2 separate regions of the Homo sapiens genome follow, and region 1 is linked to region 2. Evidence: fine-mapped expression QTL. A gene starts in region 2. The other region holds a variant in brackets. All regions are shown on one strand. Distances are from middle to middle.

Evidence for each region. PIP is the estimated chance that this variant, and not a neighbour inherited with it, causes the effect.
Region 1: its variant is fine-mapped to the expression of SLC17A2 in testis (GTEx, PIP 0.95).

What each region holds. Positions count from the first base shown.
Region 1 is chr6:25,902,101-25,905,019 of GRCh38, reverse strand. No RefSeq gene overlaps it. Among named protein-coding and RNA genes, the nearest start is that of SLC17A2, 27 kb to the left of the region's middle. The variant A/G (reference allele first, on the strand shown) is at 1,181.
Region 2 is chr6:25,929,549-25,932,467 of GRCh38, reverse strand. SLC17A2 (solute carrier family 17 member 2) reads left to right here and starts at 1,777. Exons shown (of 12, transcript NM_001286123.3): 1 at 1,777-2,191.

The DNA.
Region 1 (2,919 bases), 27 kb after region 2:
CTGAATACTATTTACAACTAAGGTACAATGAAATTGAGTAAGTCTTTTCCTCTTTTGCAGATACCATCATTATTCATATATTTCTTCAAAGTTAACTATTTGTATTTGGTAATTTTTAATAGAAATGTAATAATTGCTTCTCAAGTTTAGTCTTTAGTCTTAAGGTTGATGCTCTCCATGTCCTTCCAAAAAAAGGTATGTTGCTTTTATTATATCCTCGCCTTCAGATGGGATTATTCCATTTTGTTCTTTGTTAATATATACTTTGAGCCACTTTTTTTGTGGCTCTGGGTGAGATGCTATAGGTACAATGACAAGTGATACGTGTGTTGTCCCTGTCACAAAAGTGGATAGCCTAAGTGGTGACTTTTACCTCCACTCCAAATATATGTATCACACACCAGCCGTATGCCAGGCACCACTCTAGGTGCTAGGGATACAGCAGTAAACAGACAAATGCAACCCCTGCCCATGTGAAAGAGAATAAGACAATAAATAAGTAAAGTGCATGTTATATGGAGGTGGCAAATGCTAAAAAGAAAAATTAAGCAGGCAAGAGGACTCATTGAAAAGATGACATTTGGGTAAAAGCCCATGTATATATGTTCTATTGGTTTTATTTCTCTGGAGAGCCCTGACTAATACACAATGACTTTGAGAAGTTACTGGCTTTTGATTTATCACACTATTCGGAGTGCTGAGAGCCTTCTTAGTGTGTATTCAGTGTTTTAAGAGAGCTTGTGGATGAATAATAAATAGGACAAAATTTATCCAAACTTAAGCCTTGCTTTAGGTAAAAGGGCTCCTCTTACAAGGTAGAAGGTTATTATTTGGCATTTAAATCCAACTGAAGACTAATAAGACTAATTAATTAAAAGTTTTTAAATCACAACTGGGTGCAAAATAAATGGAACTGCCATGCTCGCCAAGTGTGCATGAGTGGTGTGCATGGGAGACAGCACGAAGCTAATCCCACTCATCTTGCAGGTTGCTCCATTTTTCTCCTAAAATCAGTAAGACAGAAGCTGGTCAGATTATCAAGAGCCCTAGTTAAACACAGCAGTAGCATTTGGAAGGGGTTGCTCTCATTAGGCAGTGCCTGACCACAACAAGAGATGAACAAGCCCTGTATCTGAAGCCATCATGCCTAGTTATGGTCCCCCACTGTTCATGATGCCTG[A/G]AAGGGAGGCCCCCTGCACCCTAGAAAGCTGGGTGGGTTCTACTGTCTGCTTTACTGCTAAAAACCCTCTTCTTTGGATCTGGACTTTACCTCTATCTGATTTTTTTTTCTAATATATGATTTGGCACTGAGTCTGTCACTGCTGCTAACTCAGCAGTTCTAGGGTCATTGCCCCATTGCCTCACAGAAAGAATTTCATAGCTTCCAGCATCCTCTCTCCTTCATTATACTTTGATTTCAGCATTGCTATTTTTTCTCTTGGGTGTTGCAGCTCTCTCTCTCCTTCCCATGTCTTGTTGGTTTTCTGCTAACTCCTGCTTTTTTTCTTTTTTTTTTTTTGAGACGGAGTCTCGTTCTGTCACCCAGGCTGGAGTGCAGTGGCACAATCTCGGCTCACTGCAACCTCCGCCTCCCGGGTTCAAGCTATTCTCCTGCCTCAGCCTCCCAAGTAGCTGGGACTACAGGCGCTCACCACTATGCCCCACTAATTTTTGTATTTTTAGTATTGCTGTCATCAATCCACATGTCCAGAAGCACCTAGAAACTCTAATTCTTTGTAGGTATCAAACCCTAGGACTCTTTCCTCTAATCACAATATATAATCCCTGATTCCCAAACACGGTCTTTTCATATACATTTTCCACTGTACATACTTTCTGACCTGGAAAGCTCTTACACAAACACGCCCTCCCCTAGGAAGCCTTTATAAATGTTCCCAGGAAGAATCAGTCACCCAACAGTGTCCTTGTCACATCTTAGGTTCTACACCTTTATTTGTTCTATCTGAATGTAATCTCCCAGAGGGTGTTATCATCTTTTTTTTTGAGATGGAATCTTGCTTTGCTGCCCAGGCTGGAGTGCAGTGGCATGATCTCGGCTCACAGCAACCTCCACCTCCTGGGTTCAAGTGATTCTCCTGCCTCAGCCTCCTGAGTAGCTGGGATTACAGACGTGTGTCACCACACCTGGCTAATTTTTGTATTTTTAGTAGAGACAGGGTTTCACCGTGTTGGCAAGGCTTTCCTCGAACTCCCAAACTCAGGTGATCCACCCGCCTCAGCCTCCCAAAGTGCTGGGATTACAGGTGTGAGCCACCATGTCCAGCCCCATCTTTTTCTTTTAGTTTAGTTCTTAACAAATAGTCTGACACAAAGTGGATATAACAATATTTTGAATTATGAATAACTAAATGAATATTTCCAGATTTCCTGGTGCTCTCAAAGTTTTATGTTACAAAAGAAAAACAAGTCTAAAATACCTGCCTCAAGTTTTTATCTGTACTATGATTTCAAACCAAATAAAAAACAGGTGGGGTAAAAACTGAAACAGGAAATACATATAACTGAAAAATTTTGGTATGTTAGTATGATAATACTAGGTCATTTTTCCTGTTTCCCCAACTTCATTTTCTATAGCAATAAAAAGAAACAAGTAAATGTATATTAATTTAATTTAAAAGAAGTAGTCTACCATCTCTTCTGTTAAAAAGAAAAAAGTATTTTAAAAAATTATCTCTGGAAGGATACACAGGGAACATTGCTCTGGTTTCTTCCAAGAGAGAAATGAGGAACTAGAGAGCATGGCCAAGTGGGGTTTTGCTTTTGTTTTTGTTTGTCTATCTGTTAGCTTTTTATTATTTTCTTTTGTAGGTTTGAATTTCAAACCACATAAATCTGTTACATGCTCATAATAATAAGTTTAAAATAAAACTTTTGGCTGGGTGCAATGACTTACACCTG
Region 2 (2,919 bases):
TTCTCTTTCTCTCTTTCTTTCTTTCTCTCTTTCTCTTTCTTTCTTTCTCTCTCTCTCTTTCTTTCTTTCTTTCTTTCTTTCTTTCTTTCTTTCTTTCTTTTTCTTTCTGACAGGGTCTTGCTCTATTGCCTAGGCTGGAGTGCAGTGGTGCAATCTCAGCTCACTGCAGCCTTGAACTCCAGGGCTCAAGCAATCCTCCTGAGTAGCTGGGACTATAGGCATGTGCCACAACATCAAGCTAATTTTTGCATTTTTTTGTGGAGACGGGATCTCCCTATGTTGCTAAGGCTGGTCTTGGATTCCTGGGCTTATGCGATTCTCCTGCCTCAGCCTCCCAAAGTCCTGGGATTACAGGCATGAGCCACTGCCCCTGGCCATTATAACTATTTTCATTGGCTTATCAGGCACATGATAACTATAATAAATCAATAACCAGAATTTTTAAATAAAGAAAGGAAGGAATTGTTTCAACTCTTCCTGCTACCCCTCTATCCCTCAAAAGGGTAGGCTGAATGTTGTCCTCCAAAGATATCCATGTCCTAATCCCCAGAACCTGTAAATATATTACCTTATATGACAAAAGGGACTTTACATGTTTAATAAGTTAAGAATTTTGAGATGGGCAGATTTTCCTGAATTTTGCAGATGGGCCCTAGTGTAATCACAAGGGTCCTTATAAGAGACAGGCAGAAGAGTCAGAATAAGAGAAAAATACTTCAAGATGTTACACTGCTGGCTTTAAGGTGGAGGAAAGGCCAAGAGCCAAAAAATGCAGTGGTCACTACAAGCTGAAAAGAAAAAGAAATGGATTTTCCCCTAAAGCCTCTGGAGGGGGCACAACCTTGCCAATACCTTGATTTTGGCTCAGTGAAACCCATTTTGGACTTCTGACCTTTAGAATTGTAAATAAATAAATAATTTTGTGTTGTTTCAAGCCATCACAGTTGTGGTAATTTACTACAACAGCAATAAAATAGAATTAAATACAGAGATCTGAGGAGTTGAGTAGGATAAGCCTACTCCAGCAGGTTATTTCGGGAGTATGGTGAGACTCACTAGGATGGCGGAACTCAATTAAGGAAGTCTGAAGCTGATAAGCCAGAGAGGGAAGGCTCTCATTTCATTTTATAAGGGTTGCGTCACACTAGGAAGATCCAATAGCAACCACAGTCTCAAAATTAATGATTACAAATAGGACACAATTCCAAGAGTCGGGAGCCAAGCAGAAAATGGATTAGGGAAGACATGGATGATATGAAACAGGAAGGAGGGGTACAAGGCAGCTTCCTGGGAAGTTGCCAGGGCAGTCACAGTTCACATTCATTAGGCTGTGGGCACCAAATGCATATGGAAAATCTAGCTGACTTAACTGAACTCCTGAAGAGGAATGAACACCTCATTTATTGAGGAGCTACTACCAATTAGAATATGTATTTCATTTGTTCAATAACCCCATGAGTACAGTAACACAATCCTTGCTTTACTAAAGCGGAAGCCAATTCAAAGAGGTTCAGTGACTTGTCCAAGCTCAGGGAAAACACTAGGAAGTGAATATGGGTCTGACTCCATCACTGATTTCAGGAGCCCTGCCCTTTCCTCCACACCATGCCCCCTTGCTTTCAGAAAAAAAGGCTTGTTGACTGAATGGTTGTATGCACAGTTCAAAGCAGAAACACACGATGACATCTTTTGAGATACTCTAACAGTGAGAACTTGAAAATGAAGTTAAAAATTAAGCGGCAAAACCAAGCCGAGGCTTTCTGAGAAAGTGGGGCCAAACCTGTTGCCGTCTGACTGCCACGTGGCTCACTATTTATCCCTGTAAAAATCTGCAAAAGTATTTGAAAGGGAAGAAGGGACAGAAAACTCCCTCCTTTTCCAAGTTAGCCTTATAGTCTAGGGCTTAAAATACTGGTTTAATGGTGAAGGTAAGTGCTTTTCTTCTTTTTGGGTAGAAGGATTATTACTAACTTACCAAAGGTCCATTAAGGGGAGGGAACAGTTTTAGGAGAAGTCAGAGAAAAGACATTAACAGCAACATAAGGATCTCCATCTGGTAATATTGCCTAATTCCAAAATGAAGAGACTCTCTGAAAAAGATAACTGATTCAATGAAGACCCTAGGGCAAGGCTTGAGAAGCCACTGGTACCAATGGACACTGTGGACAATGGTCATTTCTCCAAGGACGCTGTGAGTATTAACTGTGATGCTGTGATTAGTCAGACTGGGATTGGCTGTGGAATGAAATACTGATCAGAACTGACAAGATTTGTGTTTGGGACTGTGGCTAACGAGTCTTTTCAGACTTCTATATGAATTTGAAATGGTCTCTCAGGAAAAGGAGAACATGGCCGGGCCTGGTGGCTCACGCCTGTAATCCCAGCACTTTGGCAGGCTGAGGCGGGCAGATCACTTGAGGTCAGGAGTTTGAGACCAGCCTGGCCAACATGGTGAAACCCTGTCTCCACTAAAAATACAAAAATTAGCAGGGCGTAGCGGCGCGTGCACCTATGCGCATGCATAGTGCGCGTGCCAGCTATTCAGAAGGCTGAGGCAGGAGAATTGCTTGAACCCAGGACGTAGAGGTTGCAGTAGTTGAGATCATACCACTGCACTCCAGCCTAGGTGACAGAGTAAGACTCTGTCTCAAAAAAATAATAATAATAAAAGAAAAGGAGAACATGACCAAAGTTATGAATAAGACTGAAGGCAAGAAAATTGTACGCTTGTAGAGATCACCTAGCTTGTTGCCCTCATTGTACAGCTAAGAAAAGGCACCCAGGGACATTGTGGTCAGCACCAATTTCTCAGAAAGATAGGCAGATGATGAGAGGGCCCTCAGTTTTTCTAACACTGAAGGAATTGCTTCTATGTTTTCTGGTGAACTCCTCCCCACTCATCTTGAGGATTCCAGGCCA